Homo sapiens: one gene and its partner. The protein of the gene in region 1 purifies or fractionates together with the protein of each later gene. This does not show direct contact. Each region holds a gene or a part of one and is shown in the gene's direction. Other genes may lie near its edges.

What was found. The genes of interacting proteins can lie anywhere in the genome.
Region 2: the proteins of ARID3A (region 1) and PLS3 purify together in Homo sapiens (affinity purification with mass spectrometry, with the first as the bait; one large-scale study listed by BioGRID). This does not show direct contact.

What each region holds. Positions count from the first base shown.
Region 1 is NC_000019.10:929,035-932,534, forward strand, and holds part of ARID3A (AT-rich interactive domain-containing protein 3A), read left to right. Parts: exon of another isoform or gene 1-111; intron 112-227; 5' UTR 228-494; coding exon 495-862; intron 863-3,383; coding exon 3,384-3,500. UniProt on the Homo sapiens protein: Transcription factor which may be involved in the control of cell cycle progression by the RB1/E2F1 pathway and in B-cell differentiation.
Region 2 is NC_000023.11:115,644,674-115,648,173, forward strand, and holds part of PLS3 (plastin-3), read left to right. Parts: intron 1-347; coding exon 348-426; intron 427-1,398; coding exon 1,399-1,513; intron 1,514-1,728; coding exon 1,729-1,862; intron 1,863-2,876; coding exon 2,877-3,000; intron 3,001-3,219; coding exon 3,220-3,344; intron 3,345-3,500. UniProt on the Homo sapiens protein: Actin-bundling protein.

The sequences.
Region 1 (3,500 bases):
TCTGGCCACAGCGTGTTTCTCTGTGGCCCCGTGCGGGGCGACCTTGCTACCCAGGCCCACAGTAGGCTGTATGCGAAGAGCCTGCGCCTCTGCCTCCAAGAAGGCCTCCAGGTCTGCATCCTGCATGAGATGGACATGAGAGCTGATCCCCAGGGCCTTCATGGGGAAGGAAGGAGGGGGCTTGAGGAGCTCAGGCCTGCTCTGACTGTGCCTTTTTTCCCCCTCAGGTTTCTGCAAATGCGTGAATGAGCCGGATGCCAGCCTCTGTCCCCTGGAGCCCAGCGTGAGGAAGAGGCATGCCCCATCAGCCTTCAGCTTGAGCCCGGCGGCCCCCGCCCCCGCCCCCTGCCACCCTGCACTGCCCCGGCTCCCCCGCGGCCCCCACGCTGCAGTGCGGCCGGGCCCCCTCCCCGCAGGGGCCGCCCCCGCCGCCCACCCCTAGCGCCCGTGGTGGTGGTGGTGGTGGTGGTGGTGGTGGCCCGGGCCGCAGGGCCATGAAACTACAGGCCGTGATGGAGACGCTGTTGCAGCGGCAGCAGCGGGCGCGCCAGGAGCTGGAGGCCCGGCAGCAGCTGCCCCCCGATCCCCCTGCTGCACCCCCCGGCCGGGCCCGGGCTGCCCCCGACGAGGACAGAGAGCCCGAGAGTGCCCGGATGCAGCGGGCTCAGATGGCCGCACTGGCAGCCATGCGGGCTGCAGCTGCGGGCCTGGGACACCCAGCCAGCCCCGGCGGCTCTGAGGATGGGCCCCCAGGCTCGGAGGAGGAGGACGCGGCCCGGGAGGGGACACCGGGCTCACCCGGGCGAGGCAGAGAAGGGCCAGGAGAGGAGCACTTTGAGGACATGGCCTCCGACGAGGACATGTGAGTTGGGGTCTGGGGCAGGGCCTTCTGGGGGCTGTTACTGGCTCTGAGTGTCACTCTGCTCATCTGCAGAATGGGAGTAAGGGTCAGGTCGCGGGATCTCCTTCCTGTAATTCCAGCAGTTTGAGAGGCCGACGTGGGAGGATCACGTGGGCCCAGGGGTTGGAGACCAGCCTGGGCAACATAGCAAGACCCCATCTCCGCAAAAAATTAAAAAATTAGCCAGGCATGGTGGTGCACCTGTGGTCCCAGCTACTGGGGAGGCTGAGGCAGGAGGATCCCTTGAGAACAGAAGTTGAGTTGTGATTGTGCCACTGCACTCCAGCCTGGATGACAGAGATAGACCCAGTCTCAAAAGAAAAATGGTTTTTTTAGCCGGGTGCTGTGGCTTACGCCCGTAATCCCAGCACTTTGGGAGGTCGAGGTGGGTGGATCACCTGAGGTCAGGAGCTCAAGACCAGCCCGGCCAACATGGCGAAACCCCATCTCTACTAAAAATACAAAAATTAGCCAGGCGTGGTGGCAGAAGCCTGTAAACCCAGCTACTCGGGAGGCTGAGGCAGGAGAATGGCTTGAACCTGGGAGGTGAAGATTGCAGTGAGCCAAGAATGTGGGTTTTTTTTTTTTTTTTAGACAGAGTCTTGCTCTTTTCGCCCAGGCTGGAGTGCAGTGGCGTGATCTCAGCTCACTGCAACCTCCTCCTCCCGGGTTCACACCATTCTCCTGCCTCAGCCTCCCGAGTAGTTGGGACTACAGGCGCCCGCCACCACGCCTGGCTAACTTTTTGTATTTTTAGTAGAGACGGGGTTTCACCATGTTAGCCAAGATGGTCTCGATCTCCTGACCTCATGATCTGCCTGCCTTGGCCTCCCAAAGTGCTGGGATTACAGGCGTGAGCCACCACACCCGGCCAACTTTGTTTCATCTTAGTTAACTTAAAGCAACCTAGCCACCGATGGCTACAGCAGATTCAGCGGCAGGGGCAGATAAAATCTGCAGCCGGCTGGACCTGCATAGCGTGTGGGTCCCCCCAGGGCTGGCTGAGGGCTCACTTGCTGTGGGATCCTGGCCTCCAGGAACCCGCATCTTCCTGGGAGGACCTGAGCAAGCAAAGATGCTGGGCGCAGTGGCTCACGCCTGTAATCCCAGCACTTTGGGAGGCCGAGGTGGGAGGATTGCTTGAGCCCAGGAGTTCAAGACCAGCCTGGGCAACCTAGTGAGGCCCCATTTCTACAAAAAGTACAAAAATTAGTCGGGTGTTGTGGCATGCATCTGTGGTCCCAGCTACTCGAGAGGCCGAGGCGGAAGGACTGCTTGAGCTCAGGAGGTCAAGACTGCACTGAGCTGTGATCACACCACTGCACTCCAGCCTGGGCAACAGAGAAGACCCTGTCTCAAAAAACAAAACTGGCCGGGTGCAGTGGCTCATGCCTGTAATCCCAGCTACTCAGGAGGCTGAGGAGGAGAATCGCTTGAACCTGGGAGGCAGAGGTTGCAGTGAGCCGAGATCGTGCCTTTGCACTCCAGCCTGGGCAACAAAGTGAGACTGTGTCTCAAAAAAAAAAAAAAAACAACCAAACAAAACCTAGCAGCAAAGAAGCAGGTGATATCAGGTTGTACAAACAGCTGCCAATGGCTGGGCGTGGTGGCTCACGCCTGTAATCCCAGCACTTTGGGAGGCCGAGGTGGGCGGATCACGAGGTCAGGAGATCGAGACCATCCTGGCTCACACGGTGAAACCCCGTCTCCACTAAAAATACAAAAAAATTAGCCAGGCGTGGTGGCGGGCGCCTGTAGTCCCAGCTACTTGGGAGGCTGAGGCAGGAGAATGGCATGAACCCGGGAGGCGGAGCTTGCAGTGAGCCGAGATTGCGCCGTTGCACTCCAGCCTGGACGACAGAGCGAGACTCCCTCTCAAAAAAAAGACAAAAAAAAAAAAACGGCTGCCAAGAAAGTCTAGGAGGGTGCCGTGGAGGGGCAGTGGCGAGGGTGGGGCGGATTTCAGATGGCGGTGGGAGAATTCTCCCTGTGGAGGGAAGGGGAGGTGGAGCTGGGACAGCATGCATGGTGCAGGATGCAGGAACCAGCCTGCCGTAATGATTCCCTTTTTTTTTTTCCCAAGAGAGTCTTGCTCTGTGGCCCAGGCTGGAGTGCAGTGGTGCCATCATAGCTCACTACAGCCTCCATCTCCTGGGCTCAAGGGATCCTCCCGCCTTGGCCTCCCAGAGTGCTGCCGGGATTATAGGTGTGCGCCACCGTGGCTGCCTGCGTGATGCTTTTCAAGGCCCCAAAATTCACGCTGTAGGGACGGCTTGTGCTGTTCTGGGCTAATTGGAAACAAAGTGGGCGTCACGGGTGCCCCACGCTGTGCTCATGAGCGCTCTCTGCAGTCTGAGCTGGCGGCGGCCGGCTCTTCCTATTTCCAGAGAGGGAAACTGAGGCTGGGCGGGGAGTGGGTCTTTCCTTGGGCTGGGACGAGCCAGCACCTTCTCCCCTGACTCCTGCCCTCTGCTCACCCCAGGAAGCCCAAATGGGAGGAGGAGGAGATGGAGGAAGACCTCGGGGAGGATGAGGAGGAGGAGGAGGAGGATTACGAGGATGAGGAGGAGGAGGAGGACGAGGAGGGGCTGGGCCCCCC
Region 2 (3,500 bases), on another chromosome or scaffold:
AAAACCAGTAACTTAACTGATAACATCAGTTACTTTGAGGGATGCAGATTCGAGGAAATATTGGAGAAAGATTTGAGAAGGAGACTATAAAAAGTTCATAAACCTCTAAATTGCTTAACTGGTTAGAATAAGGTTGTATTCTTTAATTTTAAAATAAATTCAAATTTTAAAAATAAGCCTGTACCTAGAGAGAATGTATGTACTTAGAAGAATGCTTGGAAACTCGTATTATCGAAAAATTCTAGATCTGAATAGAGAGATAAAATAATCTAATATGTGTATTGGCACTATATGCACATACATAAAGTGTTTAATGAATCAGTAAATTTTGTGAATATTCTTAACAGGAGAAACTCGTGAAGAAAGAACCTTCCGTAACTGGATGAACTCTCTTGGTGTCAATCCTCACGTAAACCATCTCTATGCGTAAGCCTTCCTACTGCTATTGTAAACAGTTACGAATGTCATGAATGGATGTTAAATAATGACAGCTCTAAAGATTTTCTAGATATTAATTTGTAGCTATTATTTATATTGGAAAATGTCAAGTGGTGATTTCCATCATCATTTTCCAAATACACAAAAGCTTTAAGTATTCCTTTACATGATCGTTAACTGTAAGTGATAGAATATATAAATGTCTTTATAGTACCCTAGGGAGCAAATACTTTATATTTTGAAACAGCTGTTTGGGAGGTTGAGGTGGGGGCATTGCTTGAGCCCAGGAGTTTGAGGCTTCAGTGAGCTATGGTTGTGCCACTGTACTCCAGCCTGGGCAACAAAGTGAGATCCTATCTCTAAGAGGGAAAAAAAAAGAAAGGTAAAAAAGAAAGAAACAGAGACCAGGGAATCCTTTAAGTAGACCATCCACAACAACTCAGGGACTTTGGTTCATTGTTCTCTCAGCCTGGAACGTTCTTTGCTCGCATATAGTGGCTCGTATCCTTACTGTATTCCAGTCACTGATTCAAAGATTTCCTGACTACCACCTGCTACTCTCTAACCCCTAACCCTAGTTCCTTTTTTTCTTAATAGCACTTACATACACCCCTAAAATTGTTTGTTTATTGTCAACAAACCAATACCCCCCGTATTGTTTGTTTATCCATGTACTTGTTTATTGTCTATCTCTCTGACTCTAATGCAAGGACAGGGATTTTTGTCCTGTGGGCCCAGCCTCTAGAACAGTGCCTTGCTTACAGTAAGCTCTCAATAAATACTTATAAATGAATGGGATGGTCTTAGCTCTGTTTTCAGCACAGATTGATAGAAAATATGAGTCTTGGGTATTATTTATGGTTTTATATATCTTGTTTGACAATGTAGTGTTACTGTTTTTAAGGAAAGTCAAGTCCCAGCTTCCTGAAAACACTGATTACATTATTTTTAAATCATTAGTGACCTGCAAGATGCCCTGGTAATCTTACAGTTATATGAACGAATTAAAGTTCCTGTTGACTGGAGTAAGGTTAATAAACCTCCATACCCGAAACTGGGAGCCAACATGAAAAAGGTAGATAATTAAGTTGCTGTATATATTTGTTAGAGTATTTTTATTCTCGATTAATTTCTTTTGTTTCTAAAACTCTTGACGCTGAGCTTCTTGAGGACAAAACTGTGTCTTATTTGTTTTTGTGTGCTGATACCTAGCATTATACAAGACACACACACACGTATGCAGATTAAACAAATGGAAGTCTTTAACCATTTACTCTTGTGCCTTTGCAGCTAGAAAACTGCAACTATGCTGTTGAATTAGGGAAGCATCCTGCTAAATTCTCCCTGGTTGGCATTGGAGGGCAAGACCTGAATGATGGGAACCAAACCCTGACTTTAGCTTTAGTCTGGCAGCTGATGAGAAGGTATAGTACACAATTTTAGCTGTTTAGTCTTTACTATCATACAGGTCTGTGATTTAGTCCTTACTGTGTTTAATAAGTGGATATGTCGATAACTACACTTTTGAAATATGTTATATTTACACTCCGAAATGAGTTTAATTAATGAATATATGTTGGATGTTAAGTGGGAGATGCTTCCTTGCAAGTTAGGCAGCAGAACTATGGTTAGTCCCTTTTTTAAAAAATAGGAAGCCTGACACACAGATTTCGGCCTCGTTTAGTGTCAGTGAATTAAAAAATTGTCAGAACAAAATTATGAACATCTTCATGCTCATTTGAAAATAAAGATCTCTCTCTGTAATGCTGATGAAGATCACTATAATGCTGAAAAGCATTCATTATGACTGGGCACCAGCCAAAGCACAGCTTATTTTATGCCATTACCGCTATTGGAATAGTACAAAATGTGCCTACAGTGGGCTGTTGGACCTGCTCATTAAAGCACTGTCAATCTGCTCCTCTCTCACCACTACAAAGAGTAGATCAGTAGCAAGCCACTACTGCTTGAAATATTTTTTTCACATAGTGTGAATCTCTTTCCATGAAATCTTTAGTCCTTGAAATTTAAGGAATATAGGGGCCAGGAGTGGTGGCTCACGCCTGTAATACCAGCACTTTGGGAGGCCAAGGAGGGTGGATCACGAGGTCAGGAGATCAAGACCATCCTGGCTACACGGTGAAACCCTGTCCCTACTAAAAATATAAAAAATTAGCCGGGCGTGGTGGTGGGCACCTGTAGTCCCAGCTACTCAGGAAGCTGAGGCAGGAGAATGGTGTGAACCCGGGAGGCGGAGCTTGCAGTGAGCAGGAGATTGCGCCACTGCACTCCAGCCTGGGCGACAGAGCGAGACTCCGTCTCAAAAAAAAGAAGAAAAATTTAAGAAATATAAAAAGTGGAAGATAAAGCATCTTTCTGATGTTTGCATTTTTCCTCATAAAGTAGATGGTGACGTTTTCTTCTGCTGCCTCTCTTAGATATACCCTCAATGTCCTGGAAGATCTTGGAGATGGTCAGAAAGCCAATGACGACATCATTGTGAACTGGGTGAACAGAACGTTGAGTGAAGCTGGAAAATCAACTTCCATTCAGAGTTTTAAGGTCAGAATCCATATTTGACTATTAAATATTATGTTTGCTGGATAACATCTATCATTTGGGAAGGCAACTTTTGGCTTCTTTGTGAGTGAGAATTAGTGTTGGGCTAATGGCACAATTCTTTACGAATTCACTGGGCTTTGTTTTTGGCACTTGATATAAGTAAGCACATGTTAATTTGTATGTATCAAAATTCTCAGATTTGTTCTCCTTTCACACTAGGACAAGACGATCAGCTCCAGTTTGGCAGTTGTGGATTTAATTGATGCCATCCAGCCAGGCTGTATAAACTATGACCTTGTGAAGAGTGGCAATCTAACAGAAGATGACAAGCACAATAATGCCAAGTAAGGGAGACTGCTAATAGTATGAAAAGAACGCAGCTTTGTAGCTGGACAGATCTGAATTCTAATTCAGGTTCTGCCATTTAAGAGTGGTGTCACCTTGGGAGAAACCTCTTGGAGCCTCAGATTCCTCATCAATAAACTGGGGGCAATAATACT